Linked DNA regions of Homo sapiens: region 1 is linked to region 2. Evidence: fine-mapped expression QTL. Tissue or cell type: blood mononuclear cells. Region 2 holds a variant in brackets; the other region holds the start of a gene. All regions are shown on one strand. Distances are from middle to middle.

Region 1 (9,513 bases), 28 kb before region 2:
ATGAGGTCTCACCATGTTGCCCAGGCTGGTCTCAAATGCCTGGGCTCAAGTGATCCTGCCGCCTCCATCTCCCAAAATGCTGGGATTACAGGCGTGAGCCACTACACCTGGCACTTAACCATTTTAGGTGAAAGTTCCCCTTGAGAACCCAGTGAAGGAAGTGGACCCTCTTTCAAGAAGCTACTCATCTAAAAAGCACATGAGATTTTGTATTCAGCTTGGTAGGTTCACAGATCCTTGAGAATCTATTCACTATCTTCCTAAAATTATGTGGATTCTGACGTCACAGTAACTCCATGAAATACAGACTTGAAGACACATACAAGGTAAGAGGACGGGTAAAGAAGGACATCAGCATGTCCTCCTTTGGGTCAGGAGAAGCTTCCATTGCAAGAGATGTTTGAGCCACATTTTGAATGATAAATCAGATGTTACCAGGGAAAGCAGTGGGAGCATTCGAGGTTGAGAAGACAGTGTTTGGAGAAGCATGGATGTGTAGAAGTTGGAATGGTATTTAGGGAGTAGAATCAGCAGGACTTTGTGACTGATTGGATGTGGGATGTTGAGAGAGGGAAGGAATAAACTCCATGCTTCTGCCTTAGGCAACTGAGTGCCAGGTTTAGGTCTCGGTGGGCAGCCTCAGAGGCATAAACGCCAATTCAACAAAATAACAAGCTCATGGGCCACATTTTTTGTTCCCAATCAAAATGAAATAAACTTTTGTAAGTGATAAAAAGTACATTCCTTACAATTTAGATTACCCAGCAGATTGGATACAAGAATGCCAATGAGGAAATCAACATGCTTTTTAATCATAAAAGTTATATCTGTGCAGCCACACTAAGGCAGCTTTCTAATCTTTCTTCTTGAAAGAAGAGCATGGTCTGTATGGAGAAGTTAGCTGGCCACATGCAATTTGGGTCGTGCAGATTATCATCACTGCCTGAAGAATCCTGGGAGACTGCTTGCTGGCAGGAAGGGTTATGCTTCAATTATGGATCTGATAAGCTGGATGTGCTTAGTATGGTGCATTTGTAAAGAGGATTCTCAATGAATATTCAATCATAATTCATAAATTTCTTATAAATAAATTTTCCTGCATATTTGGAATCTTGGGCATTATAAATCTTGACGTATGAAAAAAATATTCATGAAAGGTACAACCCCCTTATAATTAGTTGCAGATTCAAATTTCGTATAACAGGGCAGTAGGCTTTAAATTACATCTTTTTCAATAACAGTTCCATTGGGATATAATTTGCATACGATACAATTCACACGCTTAAAGTGTACAATGCTTTCAATGAGTTTTTATTTACTTTAAAAAGTTTATGTTTTCTAACTGTTAGCAATTAAATGGTATTCCTTTTGTAATCAGAAAAGTAATACTAGGTATGCATATTTAAAAATTTGTATAACAGTCCTTATACATAAGGAATTTTCTCCTTCGATTGTGGGAGCCAAGAGAAAATATATCCTATGTGGATTTAAGTTAAAGTATAACATATGGTTAAAATATTACCACAAAAGTGGCATGTTTAGTGAGAAGGAAAGACTAAAGGTGGGTCATTCTAATGGCTTCCTTCAATGTCCTGCTGGGTAGGGGAGACCCAGTTTAATTTACAGATCCTCACTTCACTATCAGGGGCTTACAGAGAAACTTCCCCTGCTGTAACCTTCTCAGCTAATGGGTGATGTGCTGTGATAGATGTATTCTCACCCGGGATAGTGGTGATATTGTATTAAGAGGGAAAAAAAATAAATAATAACCTTGAGGTTTAACCTGAGGTATGTGTTGAATAAAAAGCCCAGCTTATCCATTTACAGTATATATACAGTGAGAAAAGTTGGAAGGTTTTCAGAATTCTGAATGTCACCTCATATCATGTGTTAGTGATCTTCATGATAGATGGCATAGATCTAAAAACCATTTTTTTTTGCTAAAATAACAATGTGTAGAAAAAAAAATAATCATTTTCCTAGCAAATGGAGAGAACTGTTCAAAAGATAAACCTCTCTGGTTTGACCTAAGGTGCAGGAATACAGTTGGCATTTAGGCTGACCCTTATATTGGTAATTTATGTAAAACAGTTTTTTCTTTCCAAGATTGCATAGTGTATAGTAGGAAAGTGAATAGACAAATTTGATCTGACCCATTTTTACATCACTGGGAAACTGTTTGTTTGTTTTTTAGAACACTGTTATTTTGAGACAGGGTCCTGCTGTGTCATGCAGGCTGGACTGCAGTGGTGCAATCATGGCTCACTGCAGCCTTGACCTCCTGGACTTACATGATCCTCCCAACTCAGCCTCCCGAGTAGCTGGGACCACAGGTAGGCCACCATGTCCAGCTAATTTTTTTTTGTATTTTCTGTAGAGATGGGGGTCGGGGGGGTGGGGGTCTTGCTGTGTTTCCTGGGTTGGTTTTGAACTTCTAGACTCAAGCAATCCTCCTGTCTCAGCCTCCCAAAGTGCTGGGATTACAGGCATGAGCCACCACGCCTGGCCTGCTAATAGTTCTTAAATGCAGCTCTTATCTTATTACTTCTGCAGTTAAAGGCCTGTTTAATGCTTGGCACCTGACTTTAAAGCTGACTATAATATAGCACCATCCCAAATTTCCTCAGGCTTGTTTCCTCATTGTTTCAAACATATATTGTTTCAAAGACACAATTTTTATGTGTGACTGTTTGCTTATATTGTTTAACTTCCTATTGTATTTGCTTTTAATAAAGTCTAATAGATGCTATGAAAACAGCCTTACAATCTCTTTTTCTTTTCATGAAGCTCACTGTCTACTACAATGCTTAGTGTGCCATTTAGGAGGACCTATGAGGAGGGAGTTTTGCTCAGGCTTCTCTGCTGCATAACCAGGAGGCTGATTTCTTACAGAAATTACCACTTGTAATTATATTTCCTTTGTTGCTTTCGCTGGCAGGAAACTCTAAGTTTATGAATCTCTTCTTTAATACTAAATAGATTCTTATAGCATGACTTTATTCGTATTTTTTCCACTGACCTAATTTATTGTTCTGGCCTTGTGGGAGAAGGGGCAGTGGTCCTCTTTGCCTTTTAAATTCAAATACTCATGTATTTTTGCAAACCATTTCAAATCTTTTTTTGGATCTAAATGGAATAGGAATAACAAATTTAAATTAATGCTCAACTTGCTTATTTATAGACTTTTTGCTCTTGTTTTCCTTTTTTCAAACCTCATCCAGCCCTCAAATCCAGCTTTTCCATGCACCCCTTCATTCTTCACTGATCTCCATTTTCTCGGAGCTCTTGTGTTAATATAATTTTGCATTTTACTAAGTATGATTTTGGATACCTCCTAGTGTTTCATGTGTATTAGTCCTGTAGTTCTGGGTTGTAGTTTTTTTAGTGGTAGGGACCATGGCTCATACTTTTCTGAATCTAGTAAAATAATATTGTATCAGAAATGCTTTCTGTTTACACTATAATTGTAACAAACATTGAATTTTTTAGCTTATTAACTCTCAGAGCACCCAGTACATCTTATTTAGAATTGCAGGAACCCATTTTTGTTTCTCTACAGCAGCCGAAGCTTGTTTCATAGATCTTGCAAGACTATTCAATCATTCAGTTAAAATTCCTTGACCTCCTGCTGGATGATGTTCGACAGGGCATTCATCTTCACGACACCCTTCGCGATGAATGGTAACATCTGGGCGGGTAGAGGTCCATTTCTACAGCAACCTGGGGGAGGAACAGGTAGGGTAGGTTTTGGTGTGGGTGCGATTCTTGGGGACTTCTTCAACAGGTAGGACATCAAGTCTGTAGCCAAAACAACACCTGGGCGAAGGGCAAATACCGGAGCCCCGACCGGCTCACGCCCAGTAATGCTTTCTCTGGGTTCTAACTACGTGATCAGGTCGTCTTGGTTTGCCAGGGAAAGCCCAGCGTCTTGACAACCCTGTCAGTTCCGAACAAACCGGGTCGATTGGTCACCGGGGCTCGAATCCCGACTGATATGACCCAGCGGGGACAGAGGATCCCCCTCAGTGCCACAAGTACATTCCCCACCGAGCAGCGCGCCTGCGCCAGTTGCTCTCATGCGTCAAGACTACAGGTCCCAGCAAGCATCGAGGCCCTCTCCAGGCCATTCTTCCGCCGGCGGGGAGCTCTCGTCGGCGTATTTGTTAGGTGTGGCGCGGAAGAGTCCGTGCGTGATGACGTCGACGCGGCGACGTCGAGCTCTTCCTCCTTTTCACGGCGTCTTGCATTACTATTGTGCGGCTGCAGGAGGTGTCGAGCGGCGTTATTTTTTTTTGCGGTTTGCCTTTTTTTTTCTTTTTTTTTTTTTTGGAACCGCGGTTGTTTAAAAGCCTGAGGGAACCTGGAGAGGGGCTCCCACTCCCTACCCTCTTTCCTCCGAGTTTGTGACTCCGAGATGGACAAAGTGTGTGCTGTTTTTGGAGGCTCCCGAGGCATTGGCAGAGCTGTGGCCCAGTTAATGGCCCGGAAAGGCTACCGACTGGCGGTCATTGCCAGAAACCTGGAAGGGGCCAAAGCCGCCGCCGGTGACCTCGGCGGTAGGTACCAAACTGGAGTTGTCCAGTTGTATGGCCGCGGTCCAGGCGCCTAAAGAAAATCTCCTTTGTAAAAAGAGCGGGTCTGGCCTTTAGGGCTCTAGGGTTACTCGATGTAGCCGCGTGCAGGCGCTCTCCCGTTCCAAGGGTAGAATGCGTCTCGTGCAGAAACCCGCGATCTCCCTATGCCTCGCAGAATGCCGGCCACGCAGCTTGCCGCCGAGGGCTGAACACTTGGGGTGTTCTTTGAGACCTCGTAGTCTTTTGAGGCCCCGCTATACGCACCCTCCGCCCTGCGGCTAGTGCTAACGCTGAGGAGCTTCCCTGTTGTGGGAGAGAGCCACGTAACAGTTTACTTTTAATGTAGGGAAAAGGGCGAGTTCTCGGCCCCCGGAGACAGGGCTGGGTCGAAAGGAGTTCAGGCAGGAAAGGTGGGAGTGCAGGTACCAACGGCTCCCTTCAGTTTTGCCCAAGGGCCGTGCCTTGGCCCTGCGCGAATGCACAAAGCAGTGTTTGATAGAGAAACCCTTTTGAGTACCAGCCAGTTTTGAGATATACCTGGTTTGCTTTAATGTTATTAAATTGTTTTGGTGAGTTTTGCAAATGGACAATTGAACTTTGTTCTGCCAAATTCTTTTTTATTGCATTTAAACTTCAGGGTTTTTTATTTCCGGCTTATTATGAATGGATTAGTCATTTTGTGAATATAACTCTTCATTGAGTTTAGGGAGAAATAGGACGTTAGATCCGAAGATGCTATTTGTTTAATCACCAGAATGGACAAAATTATACTTCATTTACTATCAGGGAGGCATGGGGAGAATAGAGGCCTAGGGGTGCGTCTTGTGGCTCTTACTGTTTTTGTGTATCTGGTTTTTTTTTTTTTTTTTTGAGAGGGCTTCCCATTATGTTGCCCGTGCTGGACCCCAACTCCTGATTTACTGGCTCTAGAGATCTTCTCGCCTCAGTCTCCCAAGGACCTGGGACTATAGACGCCAGGTGTGGCTGTTCATTTTTAAGTTAACATTATTGATCGGTTTGGTATCACCTGTTCAGTGCTGGTTGGGAGACTATTGGGCTCTCTAAAAGAAAAAAGATTCTGTAAGTTATAGGTCAGGGAGAGTGTCAGTGAATGCTTCTTGAAGCTCATATTCCTTACCATTCTAACAAAGGAGGGGAAGAGTGGTGACCCTTACTGTGTCACCCCAAGCCATCAGTGTTTGCTGGACTGGATTGAAGCCATTAGTTGGGCTTTCAAAGGTGGTTGTGGACACAAGTCTTCGGGTGAAAACCAAGAGTAAGAGAGACACAGGATGCTTTTGGGCCCTGCATTCCTTTGAATCGTGTTCCATGAGTGATTGGTTTTCATCTAGAAAGTATAATTCCCCGGGTCGCTTACTGTTTCCAAAGGCTTGATGGGGTAGTGTTGGTGTAAGCATATTTATCAAGGTCAGACAGAAAATAAAGAATTGTTTTAGCTTTTAAAAACAATCCTACATTTTAGAGTATTAAAATGGTAGATTACATAGGGAATGCTTTGTTTTCCTTTGAAGTGTAGTTTTTTTTTGGCATTTAACCATTTTTTAAAAGTGGTAAGTAACAGTTGCTTTTAGTAAAAAGTGTTTTTTTCCCCCCGTGGTTTGTAGTTTTAGCATTTTTATAGCTTCCTGTGTTGTCTCATCTCTCCTGATGGTCAGGTTTGAATAATAGTCGTTATAATATATGTGCCATAGTGCATCCGTAGCACTTAAAAAGAAGAAACCCAAGAGTTCCCGTTCAGGGCCAAAGAAACTAATTCAACAAAAACCTGACAGAATTAGACATAAATTTCAAAAAAGGAATATAAAACCCAGAAGACTGTCGAATTGGGTAGCATGAATTCAGTGTTAAAGCTATAAATATTAGATGAATCTTACAGAGCCTTTATAACTTGAAAAAGCCCTCCCCCCTTTGTTGATTAAAAAGAAAATTTTAAAATTAACTTTCTGTAGTAGTACTTTATTTCCTCTTTGTTCCCGCATCCCAGTTTCATTAGACCAACTCTATGAAAGCCAGGCCTCATGACATTACTTTTTTAATCTTTAGGTTCTAGATTAGCACAGGCCTGCCATCTTAGATAGATGCTTAACAAATGTGTATTGAGTAAATTTAAAATTTGAGTTATAAGTAATTCTTATTTAACTTTGTTGTGTAGGAGATCATTTGGCATTTAGCTGTGATGTTGCTAAAGAACATGATGTTCAAAATACATTTGAAGAGCTGGAGAAACATTTAGGTCGAGTAAATTTCTTGGTAAATGCAGCTGGTATTAACAGGTTGGTCACAGATTTAAATAAGTTTCTTATATATATATTTAAAACTTTTATTCCTAATATGTCTTTGATTGGTATAAGTTAATATGTTTATTTTGCTTCTAACTGGGAGAAAAAACTATTTTAAAACTTGTCAATCCATAAATTATTTTCCTTTATATTGAGATACAACATATAATAAATGTCCAGTTGAGTCGATTTTAACATTGTAATCATCACCCATATTGAGCCGTAGAATGTTTCCAGTGCTCCAGAAGGTAGTGTCTTCTCAATACTTCCTTGTTGGTAACTGTTTTCTGAGTTTTGTCACCACAGATAAGTTTTGCCAGTTTGTGAACTTAATACTAATAGAATCATGGAGTGGATATTATTTTTTAAAAGATGAATTTAGGAGAGAATATTTAGATAACATATTAATTTTCTTGCTAAACAAGGCTTAGTATGGCAGTTGCTCAGGCCATTCAAACTATTTTGGCTATATGTTACTACTTTTTAGGGGTTAAGAATATTTGCCACTCAAGCTGAGAAGGGGTAGCAACCTGTCTTCCAAGTGGATCCTTTCTGGTTTATCAATTGTTATTTTAATGTTTCTCAAGCCAAGTTCAAAATGGGACTCTAGGTATTCTAGCTATTCTAGCTCAGATAGGAAGCACTTCTTGCACTCTCAGTAAAAATGTTACATTAGTCTTGACCTTTTTGGTTTTTATCTTGTTATTATATGCTATTATATGCTGTTTCTTTTTGTAGGGATGGTCTTTTAGTAAGAACAAAAACTGAAGATATGGTATCTCAGCTTCATACTAACCTCTTGGGTTCCATGCTGACCTGTAAAGCTGCCATGAGGACTATGATTCAACAACAGGGAGGGTCTATTGTTAATGTAGGTGAGTCTTCACCTTTGTGAATTTATGATTATCCCATAATACCATACCATAAAAATATTTAATCCACGAATTTGTGATTTATTGTGAAACATGAATGAAATTTATATTATCTGTGGAAAAAAGGATTTAATTAATTGATTAATGAGTAAAATAAGAATCACACATTCACATCCCTATAGGAGTCAGGCAGGTGTTAAATGAGTGACACCACTGAGTACTAGAAAAATGACAGTACCAGCCATGTGATAAATGATATCCAGCTTCATTGTCCAGAGCCCATATGGAATGGTGGAGGCCACCACTTAGATTCAGTAGATTGTTGCCGTGCAAGAATGTGGTCCCAGTTTTGCCAGCAATTTTGATTTTTCAAGAGAAATTGGATCATTCTGATTTTTATGTGAATTTTTTTTTTTTTAAATAGAGACGAGGTCACACTATGTGGCCTAGGCTGGTCTTTAACTCATGGGCTCAAGTGATCCTCCCGAAGTGCTGGGATTATAGAGGTGAGCCACGTGCCCAGCCAGGAACCTGATTTTTAAAACATGGACAAGGAATTAAAGTAGACAGTGGTGGCTAAATAATATTGTCTACAGCAGTTTCATGGGTTACTGTTAAATCTTGTGTAGAGGTTTAAAGGAAGATAAAATTTCTCTGTTTTTAAGAATGGATGTAAGTAACCCCTAGTTTTCAGTTCATCTAACCCACAGGGCAGATAAGCTGTGGAGTATATGCCTGTAGAACTTAAAATGCAAAATGACTTGAAATTTTATTTCAGTTTGGTAATTTGGAAATAATAGTATACCATCTGCTTTTTATTTTCAAATGGTAATACCTTAAAAGGCCACAGAAGGGAGATGCTGCTCCATAAAAGTAAGTGACCCTGTTCTTTTAAATGTAGGAAATGGTTTTTCAAGCCAGAATTTAGAGTTTTTCTGTTTTGAAAGTGAGAAAAGGAAAGAATACTATGCTAATAAACTAAGGGGACATGAGAGCATTTTGGACATTTACTCTTAAAAATTTAAGGGATCCGTTTTCTTATGTAAGAGATTAGTCAATGAGTCAACCTTTGCCTTTTAACACAGCCAGATAAGGACTTTGGATACTTACAAGCAGGCAAACAGGCCTGTATCTGTCACCTGATAACCTGAGGTATATTTGTTTAACTCTAAAATCTTCTTTTTTTTAGGTGTATTTAAAAAACCCATTAGTCCTCCTTATGCATGCAAAACTTTTAGAATTGAGCTAAAAGTAAATAATAGATAGTAAATTGAGAATCTTACTACAGGAAGGACTACTTTAAACTGCCAGACACTTCATTGGTATTTCAGAAATTACCACTTTTTGACCTGATGAACAGTAGTGCGTGGCACGAATCAAAGCTGCTAAAGCAGCTTGTGTTTTTTTTTCTTTTAAAAGCCACTCATATTTAGCAGTTGGGGGTTGTATACTAACTTTAGTGACACTACTGTTAATAGGTTCTGATAACCCGCTACCATCGGACCAGCCCTGTTTTGGTATTTTTTTCGTGCATGTATTTTTCTTTTTTTGTGTCTCTGTATTTTTCTTTCTGATAAACACCCCTCTATCCATATGCATTTCTTCAGTCTGATGTCTGTTCTCTCTGTGTACTTCACAGTTCTCTTCCTTTGTTATTAATTGGCCTACAATATATAATGTAGATAAATATTCTAATACTGAACTTGTTGATTCTAATAGAGAAATGTTTGGAATGTTTTCTTTTTTTAAAATTACTTTAAAAAAATT
Region 2 (9,513 bases):
TAATTAGGGGAATTTGACCTATTCTAGAAGGTCAGGAATGGCTTCTCTGAGGCAAGGATTGTTGAACTAAAGTTAGAGTACAGTTGGCCCTCAGTATCTTTGGGGATTGGTTCCAGGATCCTCTGAGAATACCAAAATCTGTGGATGCTCAAGTCCCTTACATAAAATGGTGTAGTATTTGCATATAGCTTATGCATATCCTCCCATATACTTTACATCATCTCTAGATTACTTACAATATCTAATGCAATGAAAATAGCTGTTATATTGTTTTTTATTTGCATTATTTTTAATTGTTCTTATTTTTATTGTTCCCCCCCCGGATATTTTCTTTTTTTTCCTTTCCAACTTTATTTTAGATTTAGGGGGTACATATGTAGGTTTGTTATATGGGTAAATTACATGTCACAGGGGTTTGGTGTACAGATAATTTTGTCACCCAGGTCATCAGCATAATACCTGATAGGTAGTTTTTCAATCTTCTCCATCCTCCCACCCTCCACTTTCAAGTAGGCCCCAGTGTGTATTGTTCCCTTTTTTGTGTCCATGTATACTCAGGGTTTAGCTCCCACTTATTCTAAATGAATTAATGCAGGAACAGAAAACCAAATGCCACATTTTTGCATGTGGTATTAGGATACTTAGGATAATGGCCTCCAGCTCCATTCATGTTGCTGCAAAGGTCATGATCTCATAATCTAATTTTTTTTTGTAGCTGTGTTGTATTCCATGGTGCATATGTACCACATTTTCTTTATCCAGTCCACTATTGATGGGGATCTAGGTTGGTTCCATGTCTTTGCTGTTGTGAACAGTGCCGCAATGAGGGCATGAGTCTTCATGGTAGAATAATTTATATTCCTTTGGGAATATATGCAGTAATGGGATTGCTGAATCAAATGGTAGTTCCATTTTAAGTTCTTTGAGAAATCTCCAGACTGTTTTCCACAGTGGCTGAACTAATTTATATTCCACCAGCAGTGTATAAACGTTCTCTTTTCTCCACAACCACCAGCATCTGTTGTTTTTTAGCTTTTTTAATAATAGCCAATCTGAGTGGCGTGAGATGGTATCTCATGTTGGTTTTGATTTGCATTTCCTTAGTGTTTAGTGATAGTGAGCATTTTTTCGTATGCTTGTTGGCTGCACGTATGTCTTCTTTTGAGAAATGTCTGTTCACATCCTTGCCCATTTTTTAATGTTGTCATTTTTTGCTTGTTCATTTGAGTTCCTGATAGATTCTGGATGTTAGACCTTTGTTGGATGCATAGTTTGCAAATATATTCTCCCATTTTGTAGGTTGTCTGTTTACTCTGTTGATAGTTTCTTTTGCTATGCAGAAACTCTTTAATTATGTTCCACTTGTCAGTTTTTCTTGCATTTGCTTTTGGAATCTTCATCAAGTTTTTACCTGGGCCCATGTCCAGAATGGTATTTCTTAGGTTTTCTTCTAGGGTTTTTGTAGCTTTAGGTTTTACATTTAAGTCTTTAATGCGTCCTGAGTTGATTTTTGTGTATGGTGAAAGGCAGGGGTTCAGTTTCAATTTTCTGCATATGTCTAGCCAGTTATCCCAGCACCATTTATTGAATAGGAAGTCCTTTCCCCATTGCTTGTTTTTGTCGACTTTGTTGAAGATTTGATAGTTTTAGGTGTGCAGCTTTATTTCTGGATTCTCTAACCTATTCCATTGGTCTGTGTGTCTGTTTTTGTGCCAGTACAATGCTGTTTTAGTTACTGTAGCCTTTTAGTATATTTTGAAGTTGAGTAGTGTGATGCCTCCAGCTTTGTTCTTTTTGCTTAGGATTGCTGTTGCTATGACTCTTTGGCTCTTTTTTGGTTCCAAATGAATTTTAGAATGGTTTTTTGTAATTATGTTAAAAATGTCATTGGTAGTGTGATAGGAATAGCATTGAATCTGTAAATTGCTTTGGGCATTGTGGCCATTTTAACAATATTGATTCTTCCTATCCATGAGCATAGAATATTTTTTTTTCATTTGTTTGTGTTGCTTCTGATTTTTTCAGCAGTGTGTTATAATTCTCATTGTAGAATTGCTTTACCTCTCTGGTTAGCTGTATTGCTAAGTATTTTATTTGTGTGGCTATTGTGAATGGAATTGCCTTCTTTATTTGGCTTTCAGCTTGGATATTATTTGTATAGATAAATACTACTGATTTTTGTACATTGATTTTGTATCCTGAAACTTTCCAGAAGATGTTTATCAGATCTAGGAGCCTTTGGGCATAGACGATAGGGTTTTCTAGTATAGCATTACATCATCTGTAAAGAGAGATCATTTTACTTCCCCTCTTCCTATTTGAATGCACTTTATTTCTTTCTCTTGCCTGATTGCTCTGGCTAGGACTTATAATATTATGTTGAATAGGAGTGGTGAGAGTGGGCATCCTTGTCTTGTTGCAGTTCTCAAAGGGAATGCTTCCAGCTTTTACCTGTTCAGTATGATATTGGTTATGGGTTTGTTTAGATGGCTTTTATTATTTTGAGGTATGTACCTTTAATGCTTAGTTTGTTGAGGGTTTTTAAGATGAAGAGATGTTGAATTTTACCTAAAGCCTTTTCTCTGTCTCTTGTGAAGATTATGTAGTTTTTGTTTTTAGTTCTGTTCATGTGATAATCACATTTATTGATTTGCCTATGTTGAATTAACCTTGCATCCCAGGAATAAAGCATACTTGATCATGGTGGATTAGCTTTTTCATGTGCTGCTGGATTTGTTTTGCCGGTATTTTGTTGAGGATTTTTGCATCTATGTTCATCAGAGATACTGGCCTAAAGTTTTCTTTTTTTTCATTATGTCTGTGCCAGGTTTTGGTGTCAGAATGATGTTTGCCTCACAGAATGAGTTAGGAAGGAGTCCCTCCTTGACTTTTTGGAATAGTTTCAGTAGAATTGGTACCAGTTCTTTTTACATCTCGTAGAATTCAGCTGTGAATCTTTCTTGTCCAGGGCTTTTTCTAGCTGGTAGGATTTTTATTACTGATTTACTCACTGTTTGTTATTTGTCTGTTCGGGGTGTCAATTTCATCCTGGTTCAATCTTGGGAGATAATATGTTTAAGAATTTATCCATTTCTTCTAGGTTTTCTAGTTTATGTGCATAGAGGTGTTTGTAATGGTCTCTGAGGATTAAAAAAAATTTCTATGGGGTTGGTGGTAATGTCCCCTTTGTCATTTCTGATTGTGTTTCTTTGGATCTTGTCCCTTTTTAAAAAAATTAGTATAGCTAGCAGTCTATCAATCTTATTTATTCTTTTAAAGAACCAACTTTTGGTTTTGTTAATCTTTTGTATGGTTTTTCTCATCTATTTCATTCAGTTCAGCTCTGATTTTGGTTCTGTTCTTCCGCTAGCTTTGGAGTTGGTTTGTTCTTGTTTTTCAGGTTCCCTAGGTGTGATGTTAGGTTGTTAATTTGAGATCTTTCTAACTTTTTGATGTATGTGGGCATTTAGTGCTGTGAACTTTGCTTTTGACACTACTTTAGCTGTGTCCCAGAGATTTTCATATGTTGCATCTTTGTTTTAATTAGTTTCAGATAATTTCTTGATTTCTGCCTGAATTTCATTGTTTACCCAAAAGTCATTCAGGAGTAGATTGTTTAATGTCCATTTAATTGTATGTTTTGAGAGATCTTGTCAGTATTGATT[T/G]CTGTTTTTACTGTGCTGTGGTATGAGAGTGAGGTTGGTATGATTTTGGTTTTTTGAATTTGTTGAGAATTGCTTTATGGCCCAGTGTGTAGTCAGTTTTAGAGTATGTTCCTTGTGCAGATGAGAAGAACGTATATTCTGTTGTTTTTGAGTGGAGTGTTCTGTAGATGTTTGTTAGGTTCATTTGGTCAAGTACCAAGTTTAGATCCTGAATATCTTTGTTAGTATTCTGCCTCAGTGATCTGCCCAGTACTTTCAGTGGGATGTTGAAGTCTCCTACTATTAGTTTATGGTTATCTACATCTCTTTGTAAGTCTCTATGAACTTGTTTTATGAATCTGGGTGCTCCAATGTTGACTGCATATATATATATTTAGGATAGTTAAGTCTTGTTGAATTGAACCTTTTTATCATTATGTGATGCCCTTCTTTGTCCTTTTTGATCATTGTTGGTTTAAAGTTGGTTTTGTCTGGAATAAGAATAGCAACCCCTGCTCCTTTTTGTTTTCCATTTGCTTGATAGATTTCTTCCATCCCTTAACTTTGAGCATGTGAGTGTCCTTCTATGTGAGATGGTCTCTTGAAGACAGCATACAGTTGGGTCTTGCTTCTTTATCCCGTTTTCCATGCTGTGCTTTTTAAGAGGTGCATTTAACCTGTTTACATTCAAGATTAATATTGTTATGTGTGGAATTTATCCTGTCATCATGTTATTAGCTGATTGTTATGTAGACTTGATTGTATTATTATATTTGCTTTATAGTGTTAATAGAGTGTGTACTTGAGTGTGTTTTTGTGGTGATCAGTAATGGTCTTTCATTTTCATATTTAGTACTGTCTTATGGACCTCTTGTAAGGCAGACCTGGTGGTAACAAATGCCCTTAGCATTTGCTTGTCTGAAAAGGATTTAATTTTTCCTTCACTTATGAAGCTTAGTTTGGCTGCATATGAAATTCTTGGTTGGAATTTCTTTTCTTTAAGGATGCTGAATATAAGCCCCAAATCTCTTCTGGCTTGTAGTGTTTCTGCTGAAAGTTCTGTTGTTAGCCTGATGGAGTTTCCTTTGTATATGACCTACCCTTCTCTTTCAGGGATGCTAATGAGTCATAGATTTGGCATCTTTACATAATTCCATATTTCTTGGAGGTTTTGTTCATTTAAAAAAATTCTCTTTATTATCTGACTGAGTTAATTTGAAGAACTGTTCTTTGAGCTCTGAGATTCATTCCCCAGCTTGATCTGTTCTGCTATTAATACTTCTGATTGTTATGAAATTCTTATAGGCAGGTTTTCAGGTCTATCAGCTCAGTTTGGTTCTTTCTTTTCTTTATTTTTATTTTATTTTTTTGAGACTGAGTCTCATTCACTCTGTTGCCTAGGAGTGCAGTGATGCGATCTCGGCTCACTGCTACCTCTGCCTCCTGGGTTCAAGCAATTTTCCTGCCTCAACCTCCCGAGTAGCTGGGATTACAGGCATGCACCACCAAGCCTGGTAATTTTTGCATTTTTAGTAGAGACTGGGTTTCACCATGTTGGCCAGGCTGGTCTTGAACTCCTGACCTCAAGCAATCCATCCACCTCGGCCTCCCAAAGTGCTGGGATTACAGGTGCGAGCCACCACGCCTGGCCTGGTTCTTTCTTAAAATGGCTATTTTCATATTTTTATCTTTTGAATTGTTCTACTGGATTCCTTAGATTCCTTGGAATGGGTTTCAGTTGTCTCCTGAATCTCGATAATCTTAATTGCCATCTAGATTCTGAATTCTGTGTCTGTCATTTCAGCCATTTCCTTCTGGTTAAGAATCAGTGTTGGGGAGCTAGTGTGGTCATTTGTAAATAAGGAGACTCTTTGGCTTTTAGAGTTGCCAGAGTTATTGCACTGGCTGTTTCTCATCTGTGTGGGCGCTAATGTTCCTTTAATCATGGTGTAACTTGACTGTAGTCACTTGCCTTCATTTCTGGATGTTTTCAGAGAGCCAACTCTGTTGAATTCTTTTTTCTTTCTTTTTTTGAGATAGAGTCTTGCTCTGTTGCTTAGGCTGGAGTGTGGTGGCATGATCTCAGTTTACCACAACCTCCATCTTCCAGGTTCAAGTGATTCTTCTGCCTCAGCCTCCCGAGTAGCTGGGATTACAGGCATGTGCCACCACACCTGGCTAATTTTTGCATTTTTAGTAGAGACAGGGTTTCACCATGGTGGCCAGGCTGGTCTTGAACTCCTGACCTTGAGTGATCTGCCTGCCTCTGTCTCCCAAAGTGCTGGGATTACAGGCGTGAGCCACCACACCTGGTCTATTTGTGGCTGAATTCTTGTCTGTGTTTTCATAGGCGGTATATTAGCAAAGTATTTTTGGTGTTGAAGTTTGGGCTGTGATGTGTTTAAGCATACTGGCCAGTAGGTAGGCTCTTGCTCAGCCCTGTGGCTCCTTTGTATTTCCTTCCATTTGCAGTCATGTACCTTCTCAGTGCTCCAAGTGAGCCTCCTCTCAAGTGGGAGAGGAGGGTGTGGGCTCCTCTCCCACTTGAGTGCTGCAGACCTCAGCTTGGTACTCCCAGGCTTGGCACTGCAGCCCTGGGGCAAGCCAGACTTTTTGTTCTCTTTCCGTCTTGGGGGTAGCAGAGAGGGGGACCTTGGCAGTGTCAGTGGTAGAGGGCTTTTCATGTGTCTCTTTTGGTTGCACCCCAGGGATATACATAGCCATTGTCCATCAGAATAATCATCCCAGTGTGTTGTGGGCCCAAGCTGGGGGGGCCCTGCCTGGTGAAGAGCAGGGGAATTGGGGGCTCACAGGGAAGACAGACTAGCCTCTTCATAGGGCAGCTGCTGCATGCTGGAGGTGAGAGTAAGGCACTCAGGGTCTTTCTTTCTTCCCCAGTCTGAGGGTAGTTAGCAAGGGCAGTACCATTGCAGTGGCAGTGGCAGAGGAGCTGTCAGTTGCCTGTGGGAGCTCCGCCCCTGGGAAATGCAGAGCCACTGCGAATGGGAATATTCAGCTGGGGGTGGGGCAGCTGCTCTGGGGGCCAAAGCCAGAGGCCCTACATGGTGAAGAGTAGGCGGTGGGGGCTCATAGGGAAGAGAGACTGGTTCCTCTCCCTGTGGTGGCTGCGACATGCTGGAGGTACCAGTGAAGCAACCAGGCTCTTTGTTCGTTCTGCAGCCCAAGGGCAGCTAGGGCCGTACCGCTGAAGCCCCGCAATGGCAGAGGGTTGTCTCTGGGATTTCCCCACCAGGCAAACACAGAGCTGCCACTGACTGATCAGGCGGGGGCTGGGTGGCTGTGCTGGGGGCCCAGTCCAGGAGGCCCTGTGTAGTAAGGAGTAGCACATGGACAGGGACCTGTGTGGAAAACAGTCTGGTTGCTTTTCTATAAAGGAGCTGTGCTGTGCTGGGGGCCTGTGATAGTCCTTAAGCTCTTCTTTCCATTCCAAGCCAGAGGGCAGTAGGGTCAGGGGCTGCAGTAGTGGCAAAAAATGGCGGGCCTGCCTGCTGCCACTGGGAACTCCATCCTAGGGAAGTGCAGAGCTACTACCAGCTGAGAGCTCAGTGGGGGTGGGGTGACTGTGCTTGGGGTGTGGGAGCAGGGAGGGGGGCTTGTTGGGGGCAAGTCTGAAGGCCCTGCCCAAGGAGGAGTAACAGGAGGAGGGACCTGCGTGGAAAATAGTGTGGCCTCTTTTTCTGCAAGGCATGCTATGCTGTGCTGGAGGCTCAAGATAGTCCCTAACCTCTTTGCTCCCTCCTGATTCTGATAGCAGTTGGGGTGGGGGCTGTGCAGCAGCAAAAATGGCAGGCCTGTCTTTTACTCCTGGGAGCTCTGTTCCAGGGAATTGCAGAGCTGCTACCAGCCTGAGAGCTCAGGCAGGGGTGGGGTGGCTGCATTGGGATCCCAGGCCAGTGGGCTTTGCCTAGGGAGGTGTAGTTGGGGCAAGGCCTGTAGTTCGTCTGCTTCTCAGTACTGTGGATGCAGCCTCTCTCCTGGGGGTATGCGTGAGAACCTGGCCTCCTTTGTTGGCAAAGCTACAGCTGCTGGTGCAGGAGTGCTCACGGTTCCAAGACCCTTGGCCCTCCATTTGTGCCTGAGTGGCACACTCCACACGCTTTCTGTGTCAGCCTGGAGGCCACAGGGGAAGGGGGTCAGGGGAGGTCTCCAGAGCCTGAAATTGCAAAGGTTCATGGCAGAAACATGGTTTCCTGGGGCTCTTATTCACCATTTTCCTGCAGGGGGGAGCCTCACTTGGCACTGTGCCAATCCCAGGTGGGCAGCTGTCCTGTCTTTTTTCTGTTTTATGTTGACTACATTGCTTCCTTTATGAATCCCAACATGTCCTCTTGGACTGTTTAGTTAAAGAGCTAGTGTTTACTGGCCACTCTGTCTCCCTTCTGTGAGAGCAGCACACACTAGCTGCTTCTAGTCAGCCATCTTGCCACTCCCCTCCCCCAAATATTTTTGATCTGCAGTTAGTTGACTCCAAGGAAGTGATCACACAGACACAGAGGGCTGACTGTAAAGCCTTTCATTCAGAAGGAACAGCATGGGTAAAGATCTTTTGGTGACAAAGAACATTGTGAGTCAGGAATTGAACAGCCATGGAATGCAGAGGAGGAGAACATGGGTATGAGATGAGGCTGTAGGTCTAGATGATGCAGATCTTTGGAGGCCATGTTAAGGGTTTTGAACTTTATCCTAAGAAGTATTGAAAGATTTCAAGTAGGAGGATACATGATGTATTAGGAAAGATGATTCTGGCTATAGTATGGAGAAAAGGTTGAAAGGGGCTCAAACAGTGCAGCAATACCCATGTTTGTAGTACCCATTACCTCATGTGAGAGGTAATGGAAAATTGAGTCTAGGATAGTGAGAATAGAAATGGAGACAAGTGGTCAAATGAGATTTAGGAAATCAACAATACTTTGTGATGAACTGAATCTAGGAAATGTGTTTCTGATGTATAAATCTGGATGAGTGGTGGCGCCATTCGCAAAAAACACTGCATAAGAGCAGGTTTGTTGGTATTCGGCAGGGAGATCATGAGTTTAATTTTAAACATGCTGATTTCAGGTGCTTTGGAGATAGGATAGGAGACATCAAGTATGTATGGGTCAGAAACTCAGAGGGGAAATCCGGGCAAGAAATATATCATCTGTGTAGAAACAGTTACTAAAGTTTTGAGCAATAAGGAATGGAAGGGATTGCTTAGGTAGAGAGTTTAGAGTGAGCGTTTAGATGATAATTGCAAATACTCAGTATTTACTATTGTCAGGCACTGTTCTATGTGTGGGCATAGGATGGAACCTTGAGGAACACCAGCAGCATTTACTGACGGGTTAGAGATAGATGAGCCTGCAAAGGAGTCTAAGAAGGACTAGTTGGAGCAGTAAGTAGAAAATCAGGAGAAAGCTGAGTGCTAGAAGCTGATGAAATAAACTTTTCTTGAAGGAAGGAGTTCTTGATATCAATACTGCTAGGCATATAAGATGGATTGCTAACAAGAAAATCATTGGTAACTTCAATAAGAATTGTTTTTGTGGGGGAGATGCTGGAAAAGATGGCAGATAGGAGACAGGACTAATGTGCAGCTCCCGCTTAGATGGACAGAACAGGGTCTGGAGACTCACACTGTGAACTTTTACTCCAAGAACCACCACAGGAACATATCAGGAAAACTGAAAGAATTCACAGACCCTTTGTAAGAAGTGGCTTGTCACTGCAAATGCTGTGAGACAGCAAAAAACTGTGAGTTCCCAAAGTGTGAGGGGGGAAAAGTTGGCTTCCGAACACACATACCCACTGGGGAAATGTGTCAGGCCTCTGAGCCCAAGCTAAGCCATCATATCCCCTGTGACCTGCA

What was found.
Region 1: CBR4 starts here. The variant in region 2 is fine-mapped to the expression of CBR4 in blood mononuclear cells (TOPMed, PIP 0.93).

Annotation. Positions count from the first base shown.
Region 1 is chr4:169,004,991-169,014,503 of GRCh38, reverse strand. CBR4 (carbonyl reductase 4) reads left to right here and starts at 4,249. Exons shown (of 5, transcript NM_032783.5): 1 at 4,249-4,556; 2 at 6,748-6,868; 3 at 7,613-7,749. The coding sequence starts at 4,415. It overlaps CBR4-DT (CBR4 divergent transcript), which reads right to left and starts at 4,075. Exons shown (of 2, transcript NR_185919.1): 1 at 4,048-4,075; 2 at 3,444-3,720. It also overlaps the pseudogene RNY4P17. RefSeq lists enhancers at 3,870-4,199, 4,299-5,248.
Region 2 is chr4:168,976,900-168,986,412 of GRCh38, reverse strand. It overlaps a transcript of CBR4 not described here. Among named protein-coding and RNA genes, the nearest start is that of CBR4, 29 kb to the left of the region's middle. The variant T/G (reference allele first, on the strand shown) is at 3,666.